5 separate regions of the Homo sapiens genome follow, and all the other regions are linked to region 3. The links come from fine-mapping of genetic effects on gene expression. A gene starts in region 3. Each other region holds a variant in brackets. All regions are shown on one strand. Distances are between the middles of the regions. Region 1 overlaps SLC25A26 (solute carrier family 25 member 26). Region 2 overlaps LRIG1 (leucine rich repeats and immunoglobulin like domains 1). Region 3 holds the start of LRIG1 (leucine rich repeats and immunoglobulin like domains 1). Region 4 overlaps LRIG1 (leucine rich repeats and immunoglobulin like domains 1). Region 5 overlaps LRIG1 (leucine rich repeats and immunoglobulin like domains 1).

Region 1 (4,119 bases), 200 kb after region 3:
TAACAAACTATAATGAGCGTGTACATTATTATTTGAGGGGAATGGGATGGAGATCATTTAGAAATGCTTTTGGCTTTTCGCAGCTCTAAGTGTAAAAATTCAGTTCCTAGAAAACTGTCAGTTGCTAATAAAGAATCTCAGAACTCTAACAAGTGATACTACCGTGTCATAAAAAATAAATCACAAGATACACTTTTTGGTGACAAAATCTTTTGAGTTTCTTAACATTATGGGGTAAAATGGTTGTGAGTTTATCAGGTCTTTTTGGCCCTATAAATCATAGTACATGTTATAAGTCATCCTCTTAATACTAATGTATCAATTTTTATCACAATTCATTTGGTAAACAGGATAATTCTGCAAAGTATTGAAAATTGCAAAGTTCTGAGCCAGCAACAAATTAGATTTCCACCCACATGGTGGTTAATCAGTCCCATGTACAGAGAGAAAGGAAACTGGATATAATGATTCTAAAAGCATTTTAAAGAATGTATTAGTGAACAACGAATCCTCAATGCCTGACACCTCGATGGTTTCCTGAAAGCACCAGTGAACCATGTAGCGTATATCCCAGTTAGCATGTTCAGCAATCAGGGGTTGTTACAGAGCTTACCAGTATAACAGCATGTATACAAGCCACACACAACAACTCACAGAAGCTCACAAGCCTCCCCACACCTTTGACTCTAATCCTCCTCCTGCAAAAATAGAAGAAAAAATATGACAACAGACATGTGAACACAAAACTGAAACTGAACAGAAAAGGGAAGATATTAGCTTAGATATGAGACATAAGAAAAAGTATGCTCCAGAATCTTTTTAAATCAAGAGGCATTGTGGGAGGCCCCCAAGATTCCCACTCCCTGATGTACCCGCCCTGTATAATCCTCCCCCATCCAGTGTGGATGGGACCGTGAACAGGACAAAGACAAGTCCTGTGACGAAGTTACATTTAATCAGAAATATGAATGGATTCTGCAGATTTAATTAAGTTCCCCCATCAGTTGGTTCTGAGTTTATCAAGAGGGAAATTATCGTGGATGGGCTTGACTTCAAAGGTGAGTTCTTAGAAAAACCAGCCCCTTCCTAACAAGATCTGAAGTGTGAGAGATTCTCCTGCTGGCTCTGAAGAAATAAAATTTCATGTTGTAAAAGGGCCTATGGAGGGGGCCACATGGCAAGGACCTCAGAGCAGCCTCTGGAAGTAAAGTGTGGTCACCATCCAATCGCTAACAAGAAACAGGATCCTCAGTCATACTGCCACAAGGAAATGCCATCTGCCAACCGCCCTGTGCATTTGGAAGAGGACCCTAGCCTCAGATGAGATCACAGTCCCTGCAACACCTTGACTGTCACTGTGTGAAACAGTGAATGGAGAACTCAGCCACGCGGTCCTCAGACTGCTGCTGTAGAGACCCATGAGATCATCAATATATGTCACCTTAAACCACTAAAGTTGTGGTAATTCATTACACAGCAACAGAAAGCTAACAATCATCTACTGCACCTCTAGACATTCCCCTAAGTGATCCTGATGTTACATGACACTTGAAGTTACTCATTTCAATGGAGTGAAAAATGTGGGACATTCTAGTTAAGTGATCTTGACTGGCAGTTAAAGTTTCAGAAGTCCTACAATATTTTCTGACTTACAGCCTAATCTTACCTGGAAGGCATCTTGCTGATTATCTGATCCAGCCACCTCACTTTTAGCCAAGACTAAGAGAGGGAGCTAGCCTCCCCAGGTTCACAGGGCTAACGAGCAGCAGAGGACGAGCCACAGCCCAGTTCCTCCAACACAGTTAGCTGTTCCCAGAAGTCTTTCCTTAAAGGTGGCTGCGCCTTAAAGATACTTGCAGTTGTGCTTGACTAGAGAGGGGGAGAGAAGTATATCTCCTCTCTGATACTGTAGTAAAATGGCCATAAAATAAATACTGAATGCTTTAGAAAAGTGGAGTACAAAGCCAATATTTCAAAGGATTCAAAGACTAAAAGCAGTATTAAAGATGTCAACAGTGACTAGACCATGATAACTACTATATTATAATGTCTTCTGCATCTTTCAACCTCCCAGGGGACATTTAAATTGTCACTACTCACGGGAGGTGCTCCTGGTATCTAGTGGGTAGAGGCCAGGGATGCTGCTACACAGCCTGGAATGCAAAGGGGGGTCCCCATGGACACAATCCACAGCCCCTTAAACTCTGCTCTAAGGCATCAGTTATCTTTCTTTATCCCTGCTGACTCCCTAGCACTGAGACACTGAACACATGGCGTGCACCACCTGTGCTCCCTTACACACTCAGAAGGCAAAGCTCTCCCATATCTCAATTTTCTTTGGCTTGGGCTTTAATCACTGTTCTTTGGTTTGAACTTAAATATGGGCTAACCTTTTCACCAAGTTGTATCTAGCTCTAATACACAAGCACACCTGCCCAGCTCAATGTTGCTTCTGACAGACAAAGCCAAAACACTATTATGCATACTTGATTTTAACTAATGTATGTTTTACACATGAATCAAAATCTGGTGACCTATCAGCAAAGGCCTAGTGGAGTATGAGTGTGCAGAACACAT[G/A]GTGGAGAACCGCTGCTTACTCTAAACTGCTGGCAGCAAATAAGTATTACATGACCCAAAAAAATGATATCGATGACTAGAATGAGAAAAGTGTCAAAACAACAGGAAGTGGCAGGGACTCTGATGACATGGAGAGCAGTTTCTGTCAAAACAAGCAGCCGCTACTCTGTTCTAGACAATTACTGCCATGCAGAAATGTAGGCCCACTATGACCAGATACCCAGATTGTCCAAGAAAACTTGGATAACTGGAGTTGTATATGAAACCACTCAATTTTAACATGTTAGCTTGTAGTTTGCAAAAACCTTGAGTCCAACATTTTGGGCCACGTCTTTGAAATTTATGGTCTAGAGATTGTAAGAGCAAATGAAGAGGTGCCAAGTGGGCAAATTCAGAGGGAGGAAGGTTCAGGATATACTTCTGCACAACAGATGGAGTATTAGAGACACTGGGGATAAAGCTAAGTGATAGGCCTTGGATGAGGCCAACAAGTTTCAGAGGAGCTGCTAGTGATATTATCATCATTATCATCACAACAATAATCATAAATTATAACATTTATATAGGACTGTATTTCAGGCACTGTCCTAAGCACTTCATATGCAGGAACACATGTAATTTTCCCAACAACCTTATGAGGTTGGTATTATTGTTACTCTCATCTTACAGAGGAACAAAATAAGTCAGTTTAAATAACTTGCCTAAGGCCACATGGCTAAGTACTGGAGCTGGGATTTGAATCCAGATAGGCTACCTTCAGACTCCATGTTTCTAATTACCCCCGTCACAATTCTAATGCTTGTATCTGTAGGCTTTTAATTCTGTATCTCTCTGTAACTACATATAAAATGTGTTTCATCCACCTAAGTTCTGAATGGTAACATGTAGATAGGAAAAGACTAAAACAATGCTTAAGGTACTCCGTCTAAACACGTATAGAAATGGAAGCATTTTTCCCAAATGAAAATGTTAGCCCCTGCTCTCTATAAATTATGTTGGCCTAGTAGGATTCAGTCCCTCTTGTTAAAGTTTTACTTTCTAATGACATTCTTGGCTTCTGCTTACATAAAAATACTAACAAACAGATGCAGAAGTCACACTCTCCGGCATGGAAGTCAAAAGGCATAGACGAATTGGTTGTGCCCTCCAACCAGAGTGGGAACTGTGGCAAACAATTCTAACGCCCATCAAAGATGCAAGGCATGAACTTGTCCTACACACTGTGGCAGCATTATTACTAAATTCCTTAAAAAGTCTGTATAAAAATCTGTAACAACTTGGCAAGCAAAATTACACTTCAAAGCAGCTAGTATGTAAATTAACTTCACATTTCACTTCATTTTAAAACAAGAGAAATTGCTATAATAAATTCAGGGAAACTGGCAATTTTGAGTTGAATACTAAAAAGAAAAGTAAATTTTCACCTTTACATGAGATCTACTATTTTTTATTCTTCATGAACCCTATCTTCCATTTCAGAATCCAATTATTTGAGGACACAATGAGTTCTATCATCATTTTATTCTGGCAGGTCAAACACTG
Region 2 (4,119 bases), 86 kb after region 3:
CTGCCTCTCAGAAATGCTTCCAGAGGAGATTCAGGGAGGATGGTTAGAGGATTCACATTGGAAGCCTGTCTAACAGGGCTTAGCTTATCAGTGCTTATCTTTCTAGTGTCATGCACTGTAAAACAAGTCATTGGGTTTGTTTGGGGGAGGGCAGTTACTCTATTATGTGGGTTTTCAGCACCTTTTAGATTTGTCTGTTTCTCTTACCCATATTAATGTCCCATCTCACACACAATGGATGGTAGACAGGAAGGAAAAAAAGTTAAAACCTACTTAATCAACTACTTGTTGGTAGGAAAAGTGTTACTCTGGGAAAGAAACTGCAACCCCAGGCTAAAGAGACGTTTTCCAATTCCAGGTGAGTTTTCATTCCGTGTGTCATTACTGTTCCAGAGTTAACTTTGGAACGCATTCGCAAGGCTGGTTTAGGGGTCATTGTGACCCATCTTTTCAGGGAGGGTGAGGTTTGGCACATGGATTTTCCAAGTAAATACTGCAAGAAGAAGAGTGATTTCTTTCTTAGCCTGCATTAGGGCGCCAGAGTTGGGAACAGGAGGCCTTGGCTTTTGTGAAGCCTCCAGTGTGGGCCCTCAAAAGGTGTCCACGTGACACCACTTTGCTTGGGACAGAGAAACCATAACTGCTACACTAAGTTGCTCTGACCTCTCCCTGCACAAAAGTGGGAGGGACTTTCTATTTTGGCAGCTATTGGGTGATATATCTTCATCACACAGGCTGTTCTTTAATCTGAGGTGTTGAGAACAAACAGTCCAGCCCCATTTGCAAAGAATCCTTATGTGCCTTGTCCTAGGCCACTATCTGCTGGAGAGACAAAAAGTGCCTTGCTCCCTTCCACCCTCTGTGGCAGAAAATCCTCTCTGGTCTTTCTCCTTTTCACTTAGGCCAGAAAAAGCAGCATTTGTTTGGGGAAGGCAGAGGAGAGGTGTTGGAAACCACTTCTCACAGGAATGCCATATTGTTCTTCCTTGTACTTTCTTTTCTTTTTTATTACTTGATATAATTTGCATACAGCAAGATGCACAGATCTGAGCTGCAGACTTCTGTGCCTTTTGAGAAGCGGTGTCTGCCTTTTTGTATTGTCACGGGAGATGCCCCGACTTAATCACGCTGTAAGTGTAGGTACCATGACATATTGCTTGTTTTACGAAGGGATTCTGCACAGGTCTCTTCAGCTAGAGTGTTTCTTTGAGGCATTTACAATTACAGAAATGAATTGGTTTATACATATGTGTTATGTAGTTCATATAGCAAGACCCACCTCAAAACTAAAGGCTATTTCTCTAAATTATTAAATTAACACTGACCTTGCCTTTCAGTTGATTTTCTGCTTTCTAGGAGTTTTCACGTCAACCTTGGGCACTGGGTGGTGAGAAGAGTCCTGCAGGTGGCTCCTGACGCAGGGCTGGTGTGTCAGTGGGCATGGGGGTGTTTGACTTTCACTCCCACCCTCTTGGGGTGGCCCAGCAGCTTCAAGGACAGTATGCTTTCGACTAAATCGGCCTTGCCCTCAGGGCTTAGGTGCACAGTCCTAACACCTGCATCTCTCTAGCTCCCCATCCAAAGCCTGTGGCTGATAAACATCTCACTGGAAACCTGTCCCTCTGGTGTCTTAACTCATCTTCCCAACTCAGACCCAGAGAGGTCTGGTGTCTATAATGAAATGAGGAAGGCCTTTGACCAACCACCACATTTTCTTTTCTGAATCATTCCAGCAACCTGGCAGGCAATCGGATTGGCACCCTGGAGTTGGGAGCATTTGATGGTCTGTCACGGTCGCTGCTAACTCTTCGCCTGAGCAAAAACAGGATCACCCAGCTTCCTGTAAGAGCATTCAAGCTACCCAGGCTGACACAACTGTGAGTACAGAAACCTACACTTTAATTAAGGCTAGCCAAACTTTATGGAGGCCAGATTTCCCCAAGGACCTCGTACCAAACGCCACCCTTTCCTTGCTCCATTTGGTAAAGCTCTCCATAAATTACCATTAATGGCAGCACCTCATAAAAGCAAATTCGGAGCTGGGTCTGGTGCTGTGGCTGCTTCAGGTTGCTGAGAAAGACATCCACTGAGGTCGCTTTTCTTCCCTGATGTTTTCCAAAATGGAATCAGGAGTCCTGCTGCTTAGCTGATGCTGGCTAATGCTGAGGCTGCATGGGTTTGGGTTCTTATTTATCTTAGATGTTTTTCTGTATTTTTTTAAGATACCCGTAAAATCTGTACCTTGGACATGGTGGTGTCCGACACTTCTTGAACAGTTTGAGAGGAAGTTAGTGTAGCTGGAGTTAGTAAGCAAAAGACAAGCCTTTGTCTTCATATCTTTAATCTTACAAGGTAGTTGATTTATTATTATTATTATTTATTTATTTATTATTATTTTTTTTTGCGACAGTCTCGCTCTGTCCCCCAGGTGGGGTGCAGTGGTGTGATCTCAGCTCACTGCAAGCTCCGCCCCCGGGGTTCAC[A/G]CCATTCTCCTGCCTCAGCCTCCAGAGCAGCTGGGACTACAGGCACCCACCACCATGCCTGGCTAATTTTTTGTATTTTTAGTAGAGATGGGGTTTCACCTTGTTACCCAGGATGGTCTCGATCTCCTGACCTCGTGATCCGCCTGCCTTGGCCTCCCAAAGTGCTGGGATTACAGGCATGAGCCACCGCACCCGGCCGATTTATTATTTTTGTAAACAATTTAATTGTTTAGTTTACTGATGGAAGGCTGAGTACCCTTCTAGAAGGCAGAGTTTTAGATTCAAGTAAAGCTCTGTTAACCAGAGCCTGACGAAGGACTTTTTTTCCCTGATTTTTTTTTTTCCTGTGCCCTCTTTTTAGCAGAAGAATGTATTTCAGGAAAATAAGACAGTATTGGAAATTTTGTTTCAACAAAACAAAATAATTGTCGAGGGCCAGGTTGGCGGCACGACGGGGTGTGCCTGGCTCTCATCCTACCTGGGTTTCACCTCCCCTGGGTGGGGAGTCCTAGACTTTGCCATTTTCAGTCTGTGGAGAAGGTCTCAGTGATTCCTGAGAAGGTTTGTGTGGGGCAGCATCATGAGACACTGCAGAAATATTTGGGGAAAACCAAGGGCTTTCTGGCTGCTCTGCCTCCCCTTCCCGCAGGGGTGCTAATGGATCTGGCCCACCCAGATTCCTGACATCTTTTGGTGAACTGAGGCTTTGTCATACTGGGGCTAGAAGCCAAGTGTATATGACTTGTGGGGTGTCTCTACCCCATCTCCCCCTGCCCCCATGTGCAGTAACTTCTCTCCATAGTGGAGATGCTGTGAAATGCCCCCAGTGGAAAGTGTTATTGCCATTTGATACATAGTGGTTTGGTTTTTCCTGGGTTGAGGCATGTGGTGTGGATTTCTGTTGCTGAGCTCAGAGATACCTCACATAAGACATTCACCCCTTGAGTCATACCCACGTCCTCACTGCAGAGTCACAAATGGCACTGGTGCTACTGGGGGAGGAGACGTGAGCACACACGCGTTCTCTTCTGTGCAGCTGTGGGCCAGCCTCGGAGCTGGCTGTGGAGAGCTGGCCTCACTCACCCCTCTTGCCTGCACTAGGTGTGGTCAGGTGGCAGCATCAGTGCCTGCATGGCAGCCGAGACACATGGTGGGCTCCCCTACACATCCTGGCTTCCCAGGGATCCCTGCACTGGGATTTCTCCTCTGGCTTGGAAACTTAGCCAGGACTGCTTCAGAATGGTTGTGGGTGGGATATGCACATAAGACACTCTGACCCTGCTGGCTTCATCTCTTTAGGGACCTCAATCGGAACAGGATTCGGCTGATAGAGGGCCTCACCTTCCAGGGGCTCAACAGCTTGGAGGTGCTGAAGCTTCAGCGAAACAACATCAGCAAACTGACAGATGGGGCCTTCTGGGGACTGTCCAAGATGCATGTGCTGTAAGTGCGGACCAGGTTACTGGCATTGCTAAGGATTGCTGTGCGGTGTGGTGTGATGTGGCGTGTGTGTGTGTGCGCATGCATGTGCGCACCAACACCAACGTTGCTGTGTGTTGGGTGTGTGCGCCCACACCAGCATTGCTGTGTGGTGTGGGGTGTGTGTGCGTGCGCGTGTGCACGTGCGCGCCCACAC
Region 3 (4,119 bases):
TTTGCTGCATATGCTGTTTTATTGTGGGGTGGGGACAGGGAGGATCTGACAGTTTCATTTCAGGAAACGGCTGTGGGTATTCTGCATCAAATTACTGTTTTGTGTTCTTTGTGTAAAACTTAAACACTGACTGAGAGGACTTCATAAATTTAGGGTCTTTTTAATTCCATTCCCACTGCTTATTATTATTATATTTACCAAAAGGGATAGAACAAAAGGACATATTTCTTCTCGTCCAGATGGAAGGTGTATGTTTATTTGGATTACATATGAAACATAAAAGCTGGTTAAAGCTCTGGGTGGGATGGGTCAGGTGCAGCATTTTTCTGATAATATTTCTTGGGAATTAGATTTGAATTGATTTACCCACATATTTGAGCACTGCTTTGGGCATCACTGCTGAGATCATGCAAAATTAAACAAGAAAAAAATGAGGCGCAATGAATTCAGAAGGGGAAGAAGGAAAAAGGGGAGGAAGGGATAGGAAGATCACATTTTGGCTAAAGAAAAGAGGTGATCTTATGGCTGAGGGAAAGTTTAACACATTTAGTGCATCTCAATTAAAGCAAACCTCTTAGATTGTGTCGAAAATGGAATAAACCCTTTAATTTTTTTTTTTTTTTTGCCTTTTTTCCCTAAGGTTCAACTTCTCCTCTTTACCTCCCACCCCACCCCACTTCCATAAAACACAACTCAGATTTAATGTTCTGGAGCAAATGTTTTTCAACAGACTTGACCTGCTTAATCTTCCTGACAATGTGCGCAGTTATGTTAGTAATTTGCATACTCTTGGGAAGGGATATGAGACACTAGCAAACCAAAACGCCCAGAGGGCAGCTATATGTTACAGTGGTAATCTTTTTCTTTTTTTCTCAATGTGTGTATGTCTGCTTAATGTTACCACGTACTATCGTAACACACTACTACTATGGTCTGATCTTTAAGAGCAAAAGTTAGAAGCTTTGTTAACTATTATTTCTCCTTTAACTCTGTCTCTTACGAATACACAATGGCTTCTTGAAAATTATCTTAAAAAGACTCTGATTAAAACAAAAACCCAATGACAACAACAAAGCAACCCCTTTATCAAAGGCTGCAGCATTTCTAGAAGTACCCTTCAACTCACTAGCTGGGAAGGAGAGTGCACTTTTTTTTTTTTTTGAGACGGAGTTTCGCTCTGTCACCCAGGCTGGAATTCAGTGACAATTCAGTGACAAGTCTCTGCTCATTGCAGCCTCCGCCTCCGGGGTTCAAGCAGCTCTCCTGTCCCAGCCTCCCGTAGCTGGTATTACAGGTGTGCACCACCACACCTGGCTAATTTTTTTATTTTTCATTTTTAGTACAGACGGGGTTTTACCATGTTGGCCAGGCTGGTCTCGAATTCCTGACCTCAGGTGATCCGCCCGCCTTGGCCTGCCAAACTGCTGGGATTACAGGCGTGAGCCACCACTCCTGGCCGAGGGTGCACCTTTGAGACTAGGTTTCTGCAGCACACATTCATTTTAGTAATCAAGGACATATTGCTGGATTTAGGACGTGAAGAACAAGTCAGGAGCAGATGCTCCAGGCTGCTCGAGGAGGAAGGGGACCACGCCTAATGAAATAACCAAGGATGTCCCAGTCAGGAAGAAATGTGTTAAGTTTTAAACCTGTGTCTTCGCTTTTGGAAGGAACCTGGAAAACGGACGCGGGTTTGCTTCTAATCTGCAGTCCTGCTTGCAGCCTGAGGAGGACGTAAAAAGCCTTGGGGCCAGACAGCCCCAAAACGGGGGCGTTTTACCCTCTTAACTTTCTCTCCCCTTCTTGACGCAGAGGGCGTATCTTCACGCCTCCTTTCCCCAGCCCGCGTTCCCGTTCTCCAACAACAACCTGCGTGTCTCCTTTAAGAGGCGGGGGCCGTCCCTCCCTTTCTCCTCCCAGTCTCCCGCCCTTCACACCTTGGGTGGGAAAAGAGTGTGGGGGCGGGGTAGCCGGTGAAGCGGGAGGGGCGGGATCACAGCGAGCGCTCCAATGGCCCTCGAGGCTGGCCACGGTGGACTCCGGCAGCCAATGAGCAGCAGGCGGGGAGGCGTGGCGGGGCGCTGTTGCAAAGCATCCAACGTGGGCCAGCAGGCGGCCGCGGAGCGCGGAGCCTAGGGGGTGTGTGCGGGCGAGCGGCCGGGGGCGGGGCTTGGGGGACCGGCCGGGGCTGGGCCGCGGGGAGGCGAACAGCAAGCGGCTGATTGTTCGGCTGCGAGGTCGGCGGGACTCTTGCTGCGCGGAGGAGCCGTGCGGAACCCGAGGCTGCGCGCGCGCGCGCGCTCTCTGGCCGCGGCGTGGGGACAGCGAGGCGCACTGGGGCCTCCCAGCGCGGGGCCGGCCGCGCCGTCCAGCCCGAGGTCTACGGCTTTGCGCTCCGAGCCCAGAGGAAGATGCCTGCCGGCACCGAGCTCGGGCTGCGGGGCTGAACGCCTGTCTTCCAGGCGCAGCGGCAGCACTGCCCTCGGCCGGTGTCGGTAGCGGCACTCGGCGTGCCCCGGGCGGACGAAGAGCGCAGGCTGGGTACACCTTGCCCGAATCGGCGGAGTTCGCAGCTAGCGCGGGCGGGCCGGCCGGCCCGGATGGGCGCGGGGTTTGCGGCCCCCGCCGGGTGCTCCGGAGCGGCCCGGGCACCGGGGGCACGCTGAGTGCCGGAGCCGCGGCCGCAGAGAGAACTTGGGGCGGGGGCCATGCCCCGGTGCGGAGTCTAGAGCCGAGCGGAGCGCCCCGCGGGCCCGCCCGCGTCTGCGGCCGTTCGGGTCCTCACAGTCCCCGCGCCCGGAGTTCGCAGCGCGCTCCAGACAAGATGGCGCGGCCGGTCCGGGGAGGGCTCGGGGCCCCGCGCCGCTCGCCTTGCCTTCTCCTTCTCTGGCTGCTTTTGCTTCGGCTGGAGCCGGTGACCGCCGCGGCCGGCCCGCGGGCGCCCTGCGCGGCCGCCTGCACTTGCGCTGGGGACTCGCTGGACTGCGGTGGGCGCGGGCTGGCTGCGTTGCCCGGGGACCTGCCCTCCTGGACGCGGAGCCTGTGAGTGCCGCCCTTTCCGCCCTCTCTGCGCCCCGGGGCTCTGTCACTTGGGGATGGAGCGGCGGGGGTTCGTACTCAGGGAGGGGGTGCGGACTGGGTTGTGTGTGTGGAGTTGTGCGTGCTTGTGCGTGTTGGAAGACTGTCAGGTTGGAGTGGCGGAAGGGAGATTCTGCGTGGAGGTCCGGGGGAGTAGGCGTGCGAGAGAGCCTGGAGAAGAAGAGCGTGCCTCGTGGGGTCTGGAGACGAGCGAGCGTGGGTCGTAGAGATTTGGGGGTTAGCCAGCACGCGTCGTGCGGGCCATCTGGGGGTGAGTGAGTGGGAGTCTGGAGCTGAGTGTGTTTGCGGGTGGGTGGGTGGGAAACGTCTGGAGAAGAGTGTGAAGAAGTCTGTGGGGGTATGTGGGTGCGTTTCCTTTTCCTCTCCTGTAATCCAACTATTTGGTGTCTGAGCTCCTTGGTCTTCCAGTGGGTAATGAATGAAGGTGACTGTTGGGTCCAGTCTTTCGTTTACATTATTTATTAGTTGATAGTGTGTGTAGCCGTCTCCTGATCCCCGAAGACCGTGGTGGCCTGACTTGCCTCTCTGTGCGGGGCAGAAGGCAGTCTTCCCCCGAGGACCCCTGAGTTAGAGGGCTTTGACAGTTCCTGGCGACCTGTGAGTGCTGGGAGTTTGTCCTTTTACGCCTGTTTGGCATTTTACGGAACTGTGTTCCAGACCCTTCCTGTGTGTTCCCTGGGGCCCCATTGGGCTTGATGATCCAGTGGGGTGGGGCCCACCCTCAAGACTCTCTCCTCCATAAATGGTGCAAATGAGTTTTGGAGAAGTGCTGCTTCAGGAGAGGGTGCCAGGGGCTTGGCTGATTTAAGCTGTTTGTTTCACCCGAAAGAGGTTCTTTTCTGTGCTGTCAGGATGTGGGCTTATTAGGACTTAGTGGGACACTTCTTACAGGAGATTTGACAGGAAAAAAAAGGCATTAGACTTCTGTGTAAACATGGTAGAATAGAATAGTCTTCTTTTACTTCTAACAAATCTGGTGCATGAGTCAAATCCCGTTCAGTTATGGGTAATTAGCATCTC
Region 4 (4,119 bases), 120 kb after region 3:
ACTGTTTTGTGTGAAAGTCAGCAGGCAGAGCCAGTTGTCTTAAGGAAACTGCCGGCTGGCTGGTTTGAGAACTGAGAAGTGGTGGGTTAATTTCTAATCAAGGAGTGTGATCATAAAGGTGATCAGTACTCACAGACTTCTAATTAGATGAGGTCAGATGTCCATGGTGCAACTCTTACGGCATCTGGTTGGTGGGGCTGAGGATGCACAGGGACCTCAAGCTCTGGTTCCTGCTTGGTGTCTGTGTCAGTTTCTGTTAGCATGAACAGCAGCTGGTTCCTCTGTGTACCAAGAACCCAGCGCTTTACAGTTGACCCTTCTCTCCCCAGATGACTTCCTGAAGCCACAGATCATCACCCAGCCAGAAACCACCATGGCTATGGTGGGCAAGGACATCCGGTTTACATGCTCAGCAGCCAGCAGCAGCAGCTCCCCCATGACCTTTGCCTGGAAGAAAGACAATGAAGTCCTGACCAATGCAGACATGGAGAACTTTGTCCACGTCCACGCGCAGGACGGGGAAGTGATGGAGTACACCACCATCCTGCACCTCCGTCAGGTCACTTTCGGGCACGAGGGCCGCTACCAATGTGTCATCACCAACCACTTTGGCTCCACCTATTCACATAAGGCCAGGCTCACCGTGAATGGTATGGAAACACCATCTTTGTTATAGTACCAGAATCCTACAAAGCACACTCCTGATTGCCCTTTCAGCTTTCCATGTAGAGATGACTGAGACAGGACACACACATGCTTCTGTGGGGCACTGTTAAATCCTATTGTTGCCTGGGTTTGCCCCAGAGCAAGTTTTGCAGATTTCAAGGGTTATTCACAATGAGTTACTTGTTTTTGGTGAGTTTTAAAAATCTAGTTATTGGCCGGGTGCTGTGGCTCATGCCTGTAATCCCAGCAGTTGGGAGACTGAGGTGGGCAGATCACTTGAAGCCAGGAGTTCGAGACTAGTGTGGCCAACATAGTGAAACCCCGTCTCTACTAAAAATACAAAAATTAGCCAGGTGTGGTGGCACATGCCTGTAATCCCAGCTACTTGGGAGGCTGAGGCACAAGAATTGCTTGAACCCAGGAGGTGGACGTTGCAGTGAGCCGAGATCACTCCACTGCATTCCAGCCTGGGTGTCAAAGTGAGACTGTCTCAAAAACAAAACAAAAACTAGTTATTAAGTCAAATTGTGGAGAGCTAAGCCTTGTTTTGTCCAGTTCTTATCCTCTATAAGCCAAGAGATCTGGCTTCCAAATTCCAAATACCCCTTAGCCTGGGGAAGCTGCTGTTCTTTGAGTAGATGGCACAGCATTGGAGTCAGAGGCTAGCTACTGCTCCAGAGACTGTGGAGTGCAAGGCTGGTGTGAGCCCTGGCCTGAAAGACACAGTGTCCTGGCAGTTGACAGGTTTTTACTCATTAACCAGCCTTGGAGCTTGTCAAGGGGACCATGTGTTATTGTGTGTTTGGAGGAGGGGGGTGGGGAGTAGATAGCTTGAAGAGTTTACTGTCCCACCCCAGTAACCTAATGGGGTTATCCTGATTACTAACTCTCTAGTTAAAAAGAATTGGCTTGAGAATCATCAGAATGGTGGATCTGCTTTGCTCTTTAAGCCCCCACAGATCACAGCGAAACACCTTCTTTACCACACTGTAGTGGGGTTGTCTTGGCTTATTCCAAGTCCTCACAGCTTCCGAAAGACTCAGCTGTTTGTTAGACTCTCCCCAAAATTGACGTTGACAGGAACTCTGGTGGTGCCTGACACGTGGCTGGATGCGTCCCACTCTGTCAGGACATCGATCTTTAGGCTGAGCAAGCTAGCAAGCTGAATGCTTCCTGCCTGGGTATACGGCAGTGGGCAGGAACAGCCTGGGTGAACAACCATCCAAATGGATGAGCCATCCCATTCATCCCATGAACACCCATCCAAACGGATGAGCCATCCCATTGCTCTCCCAAGGTGGAGGCATGCCCACCTTCCCTCTGTAATTCCATCTCCACAGCCTCTCTCTTGGTGGGTAAAGCAGGCAAGCATCAGGCCTACCTAGTGTGGATGGGCACCCCCTGCAACTCCCGTATAGGCACTGCCATGTAGAGTAAAAGCCTTTGCTTTGAAGGGACTATAGCCAGCCTAGGGTGTACAATGCAAGGCTGATGGGATGGAAGTGTTCCAACTGTGGTGGGAGAAGCTGGGGGTTCCTGATTCACAGGTGGCAGGAGTGGTCCTGGGCAGACATTGGGAGAAAAGAAGTGAACTGGCACTGGGCACAGTGACAGGTAGGTGTTTGCCAGAGGACTTCCTGGTTTTGCATCTAGCTGTCCCGTAACCCGACCCTGTATACGTATGTTTTCCAGTGTTGCCATCATTCACCAAAACGCCCCA[C/T]GACATAACCATCCGGACCACCACCATGGCCCGCCTCGAATGTGCTGCCACAGGTCACCCAAACCCTCAGATTGCCTGGCAGAAGGATGGAGGCACGGATTTCCCCGCTGCCCGTGAGCGACGCATGCATGTCATGCCGGATGACGACGTGTTTTTCATCACTGATGTGAAAATAGATGACGCAGGGGTTTACAGCTGTACTGCTCAGAACTCAGCCGGTTCTATTTCAGCTAATGCCACCCTGACTGTCCTAGGTTTGCCTATTGCTCTACTGTGTGTGTGTGTGTGTGTGTGTGAGCGAGAGAGAGAGACTCTCAAATGCTCTGTGTGGCCAGGGGTGGTATGCGTTGTGGGCCTTTCGACCCTGTTTGAAATTTGGGGCTGCTTTTTGAGTTGAGTTAATTTTTCTTAAACAAGTGTTTCTATCTCTTTAAAAGAAATGATAGCTGGTGAATTAAGAGTCTTCATAGGGTTTAGCTACAGAACATTTTAAGAATTGGACAGGATGGATGTGGGCTTGGTCAAGAGCTACAGAACATTTTAAGAATTGGACAGGATGGATGTGGGCTTGGTCAAGAATAAGGACACAGGCCTGACACAGGACAGTTAGGGAATAGCAGGGGCTTTTGTCAGCAGAGGTTCACTGTCCCTGTGGAAGCCACTCCCAGCATGGAGATGACTCAGTCAATGAGTTGAAGGGTCTTCTCCAAAGCTTGCCACTCTGAGACAGAATCTCAGATGCATCTCATTGATATGTTGGATTGTCCGTTGTCCAGAAGACCGGGCAGAGCCAGAGCAACGGAGGCCCTGAGAATGACTAAGATCTCTGTTGCTCTCTTGTAGAGACCCCATCCTTGGTGGTCCCCTTGGAAGACCGTGTGGTATCTGTGGGAGAAACAGTGGCCCTCCAATGCAAAGCCACGGGGAACCCTCCGCCCCGCATCACCTGGTTCAAGGGGGACCGCCCGCTGAGCCTCACTGAGCGGCACCACTTGACCCCTGACAACCAGCTCCTGGTGGTTCAGAACGTGGTGGCAGAGGATGCGGGCCGATATACCTGTGAGATGTCCAACACCCTGGGCACGGAGCGAGCTCACAGCCAGCTGAGCGTCCTGCCCGCAGCAGGCTGCAGGAAGGATGGGACCACGGTAGGCATCTTCACCATTGCTGTCGTGAGCAGCATCGTCCTGACGTCACTGGTCTGGGTGTGCATCATCTACCAGACCAGGAAGAAGAGTGAAGAGTACAGTGTCACCAACACAGGTCAGGCCCTGCCAGCGGAGCTGACTTTCAAGGAGGGAGGAATGGCAGTGATGCTGGGGAACTGGGCCGGGTTCCAGTGGCTTTTGAAAGAATTGCACTGTGTTCAGAACTCCTGAGGGTTTAGTCCCACTAATTCCATTTTAACTTTGAGGAACTTAACCTTAAACAGGAATACTCTCAAATTTAACCTTAAACAGGAATACTCACAAATACAAGTAACTGACGCACCATGCAGTTTTCCCTCTCCTTGCTAACTCAGAGGCCGCCTATGCACAGGCCCTGCTGCCACGTAGTAGGTTGTTCCTGAAACAGTGCGGTACTTCTGTGAGCCCCGGCTTTCCATCACTGGTCTCCACTTCTTGTGGCGTCTGGCATCTGCTGGCTGCGCTCTTCACGCTGGGTGTAGAGTAAAGCTGAGCAGGCTCTGGGAGGGCCTGTTGCGTACATGGACTCCATGTCATCTCTCTGCA
Region 5 (4,119 bases), 110 kb after region 3:
GTGCCCTCTTGCTGGGGAGCTGGAGGTGCTTCTGACAGCGGAGAGTTCTCCATCCAGGCTGAGTTCCCCCCATGCCTGGCGCAGCCAGCCCTGACCCCCATGCAGGGTGCACTCCTGGGAGCTGCCCTCCCCAAACACTGCATGGGAATTGACCATTTCCTCAGGGATGGCCGTTACAGCCCTTCCGCCACCTGCAGTGACTCCACAGTAGGACAGCCCTCCAGATGGCTCTCAGCAGAACGCTACCTGCCCGTGAAATAAAAATGCAAACTCTCATGCTGATTTTAAGATCTAATATGGGCCAGCATCCCAGTTATAATGGCCTTGAGATAAGTTATTTCTGTTTTTGGAAAAGCACTTTCCAAAATTATAATTATTTTAATAAGATGCCCAACTCATCTAGGGGTGATGGGGAACATGAGGAAGAGTGGATTTTACTTAATTTAGCCTTGGGTCATCTGCTTACACTTCATTCTTCCTTGCTGTGACAGTTTCTCTGCTCATTAGAAATCTGGAGAGAAACAGAAGAAAATGGAAGGCCAGTCCATTTGGTTGCTTTGTTGATGTCTGAGGACAGTGGTGGGTGGAGAAGGCAGCCAAAGTCGTGCTCTTGGCCTGCATGATGTTTTTGGAATTTCTGCGCATACCTGTGCCTCCTGTTTGTCACCATGTACCAGAGACAGTGTATTGCAGGGAAGCCTGTGTGCTCTCTTTCCCAGTCTTCCCTTATCGTGGGCCAGCCATCATTCTTTAGCTCACAGCTCTGAGGTCTTCCAGGAACAAGGCAGCTAGACTCTTGGTTGACTTATCTTCAAGTGACTCCTCAGGAAGGAATGTCCGCTGAGATGGCGATTCCGATTTCTGTTTAAAAAGCTTATCCTTAGTTGCTGAGAAATGAAAAAGAAAATATTCTCTGTTTTGGTTGGAGCCCCACAAAGCTAAAGTTGTGCATTCTCATGCTCCCTGGGCAGTGGCAATTAACTAACAAGCACTATTTAGGGAGCAGAGCCGAATTCTGCCGGCCCCCTGAAGAATACTGGTGCAAAGATCAAGGCACAAACAAGAGGGTGGCACAGTGACGGGGCTTATTACATTTGGAAGTAAGAAAACATGCAGCTTTGCCAAATGGAAAAGGAACAGCCATGAGGCAAAAGAGCCCTCCTCGGAACTTGTTGCAGAATTTGGATCAAAGTCTCAGGCCGAGTTTGGAAGCTCCAAGTAGTTTATCAGGAAAGTGGGAAAAACCAGAGGGGGGATGGTGGCAGCATAGCACTGTTGGATGTATCAGAGGTCAGGAGAGGTCAGAAGGCAGCCCAGGGTCACACAGGAACAGTGTCTGTCCCAGAACATGGCATGGATAAGCTCCACGTTGCTGCTGCTCCAGTTGCGGTCCTTGGGTCAGCAGCCCCAGCATGATACGTGAACTTGTTAGCAGAGTCGTGGGTTCCACTCCTGACCCACCCAATCAGCAACTGCATTTTTTCAAAATCTCCAGGTGGGTTATATGCACTGCCCTGGGAAATTGGAGAGGAAGTGTGAGAAAAACCATTTCCCCCTTCCAGCTTGCTGATGTTCACTTGAGAAGCTGATTGGAGGCGACTGATCATTGTGTGTGTGAAGGGAGTGTCCCTCCTTTGCGGCTGCACCTGAAGCATCCACTGTTGTGTTTCTTTCAGCCATATCAGCAG[C/T]GACAGCTTCCTGTGTGACTGCCAGCTGAAGTGGCTGCCCCCGTGGCTAATTGGCAGGATGCTGCAGGCCTTTGTGACAGCCACCTGTGCCCACCCAGAATCACTGAAGGGTCAGAGCATTTTCTCTGTGCCACCAGAGAGTTTCGTGTGCGGTAAGACTGTCTTTGTAACTTTTTCTCTCCTTCATGAAGGACAAGGAAGCCAGGAGGTACTCTTCATTATGGGAGTAATTCCTGTGATCAGAGTAAACCCCAGCCCGTGGTTACAGATCAGCTGCTGGATGCAATTTATTTCTTGCTGAAACCACACACAGTATTTACCGTAGAGTTGCCTCATTATGTGGTTCTTGGAGGACATGCATTTAATCAGAAGGGAGTATAAGTTGGTTCAGTTACAAATCAGAATAATCAGTTACAGGAAGATAGTTCTGTTGTTTCAGAAGGGCTCTGGTGCCCGGGTTTAGCTGCGAATGTACTCCGCGTACGAGGCTGGCGTTTTAATGTGTGTTTCTTTCCGACCCCAAGAATGAAAGGTTAAATACAGGAAGAACAAGTCTCAGGAGAACAGTTGCTGTAGTAAAAATAATTCCTTGATGTTGACTTGTACTCTTGCTGTTTCTCCAAACCACTGAAATCTGCACTTGCAGCTTTACATTCTTTTTGCCTTCTGATTCCTGGAGCGTAGCTCTTGCCATCTTTTTGACTGGGAGTCGGGATCCAAGTTTGGTTGCAGAGAGCACAGAAAATGCTGAACAGCTGAAAACACACACGCAGGCTAGCTCAGACAGGACTGACACAGGCTCACGGTCAGGAAGACATGGTCAAAAAATGAGATGAATTTTGAGTTTTTCCTGTTTGCTTGCTCTAAGCAGGAGCAAGAGTGGGATTCCCAGGCCTGACTGGAACTGCTGGGCAGGTGTTAAGTCCCTCCTGCCTTTTGTGCTCACTGGTCTCCCTTGAGCCTTGAGATCCCTGCTGTGAGGATCCTAACCAGGAACTCACCCATCCATATGGCAACCCTTGTGGGCCACTTCTGTCTCCTACTTTCTGGCCATAGCAATAGCCATTGTGCCTGCTGGAGTAGCCAGTGTGCCTGCTGGAGGCAAGATGTGTGTGCCCTCTCCATGCATCCACCCCTACCTTCACCATCACCACTTTTGAGAACAGGCCTGCTGAACTTCCTCTGGATCCAGACCAGGGACACGTCTTAAACCCACTGCGAACATGGCAGCAGCTCTCCAAACTGACTTTTCATACCGATCTGTCTTATGGAGCCTTCTGTGTGGAATCTAATGCTCGCACAGCTCCATTATCCAGGCACAAAATGGCTGTATAATCCATTGTTCATTGGCCCATTGTCATCAAGTCCTTGACCCTTAAATTGTTTATAGACCTCCCTCAAATAAAGCTTTCCATCGCTCCCTCCCCTTTCCTGCCATAGGGCAGGCTTTCCCTCTGGGTGAGCCAGGTAGGACTTTGGTAAGTTCACCTAGCCCCCAGCCTGTGGCCCTGGCATATTCTGGATTGCAAGAGTTGTTTATTTCACATCTGTCATCCCCACCCCCACATTTTAGCTCAAGCTTCCCCCCCTCTAAAAACGTCAGGTGTTAATGGGAATCATGAAAACACTTGGCAGAAGATCAAGGTTTCAGGCTTTATGGGAGTCTCCCACTCCTTTTTTAAAAACGGAAACATAAGCACTCCACATCCACTAGGACAGCTAGAATCCAAAACTCAGATAATAACAAGTGTTGCTGAGGATAGGGAGAACCCTCCTACACTGCTGGTGGGAGTGTAAACTGGGGCAGCCACTTTGGAAAACAGTCTCGGCAGTTCCTCAGTTCAACATCCAGTTACGACATGACCTGGCAGTTCCACTCTTGGGTGTATACCTAAGAGAAATGAATGTATATGTTCACACAGAAACTTCTTCATGAATGTTCATAGCAGCATTATTCATAATGGCCAAAATATGGGCACAACCCAGGTATCAGTGGATGACTGGATAAACAAAAGGTGGTATAGCCATACAATGGAATATTCATTAGGCTGTGAAAGCAATCAGTAGTCCTGCAACATGAATGAACTTTGACAATGTCATGCTAAGTGGAAGAAGTCAGCCACAAAAGACCATTAGATTATATGATTCCATTCATAGAAATGTCCAGAATGGGGAAATCTGTGGAGGTAGAGATTAGGTTAGTAGTAGTTTAAGGATGGGGAGGGATGGAAAGAGAGGGGTAATAGCTAAAATGTACAGCATTTCTTTTTGAAGTGATGAAAATGTTGTAAAATTGACTGTAGTGATGGTTGCCCATATTGGTGAGTATACTAAAAACCATTGAATTGTATACTTTAGATGAGTGAGTTGTAGTGTAGATGAAGTATTCTCAATAAAGCTGCTTTTAAAAAGAAATATAATTTATATATCA

Evidence for each region. PIP is the estimated chance that this variant, and not a neighbour inherited with it, causes the effect.
Region 1: its variant is fine-mapped to the expression of LRIG1 in whole blood (TOPMed, PIP above 0.99).
Region 2: its variant is fine-mapped to the expression of LRIG1 in whole blood (TOPMed, PIP 0.97).
Region 4: its variant is fine-mapped to the expression of LRIG1 in whole blood (TOPMed, PIP above 0.99). The same link has a PIP of 0.9 or more in lung and microglia.
Region 5: its variant is fine-mapped to the expression of LRIG1 in whole blood (TOPMed, PIP above 0.99). The same link has a PIP of 0.9 or more in T cells.

The regions. Positions count from the first base shown.
Region 1 is chr3:66,301,032-66,305,150 of GRCh38, reverse strand. The region is part of intron 5 of SLC25A26 (solute carrier family 25 member 26); the gene reads right to left. Among named protein-coding and RNA genes, the nearest start is that of SLC25A26, 82 kb to the right of the region's middle. The variant G/A (reference allele first, on the strand shown) is at 2,578.
Region 2 is chr3:66,412,678-66,416,796 of GRCh38, reverse strand. LRIG1 (leucine rich repeats and immunoglobulin like domains 1) reads left to right here. Exons shown (of 19, transcript NM_015541.3): 5 at 1,734-1,877; 6 at 3,783-3,926. Among named protein-coding and RNA genes, the nearest start is that of LRIG1, 86 kb to the left of the region's middle. The variant A/G (reference allele first, on the strand shown) is at 2,484.
Region 3 is chr3:66,499,113-66,503,231 of GRCh38, reverse strand. LRIG1 (leucine rich repeats and immunoglobulin like domains 1) reads left to right here and starts at 2,210. Exons shown (of 19, transcript NM_015541.3): 1 at 2,210-3,042. The coding sequence starts at 2,825. RefSeq lists silencers at 1,841-2,500, 2,521-2,660, 2,701-2,780, 2,801-3,010 and enhancers at 2,113-2,613, 2,614-3,114.
Region 4 is chr3:66,382,512-66,386,630 of GRCh38, reverse strand. It overlaps LRIG1 (leucine rich repeats and immunoglobulin like domains 1), which reads left to right. Exons shown (of 19, transcript NM_015541.3): 13 at 330-650; 14 at 2,359-2,640; 15 at 3,230-3,649. Among named protein-coding and RNA genes, the nearest start is that of LRIG1, 120 kb to the left of the region's middle. RefSeq lists enhancers at 389-488, 2,935-3,434, 3,435-3,936. The variant C/T (reference allele first, on the strand shown) is at 2,387.
Region 5 is chr3:66,391,761-66,395,879 of GRCh38, reverse strand. LRIG1 (leucine rich repeats and immunoglobulin like domains 1) reads left to right here. Exons shown (of 19, transcript NM_015541.3): 12 at 1,677-1,840. Among named protein-coding and RNA genes, the nearest start is that of LRIG1, 110 kb to the left of the region's middle. RefSeq lists an enhancer at 2,223-2,272. The variant C/T (reference allele first, on the strand shown) is at 1,689.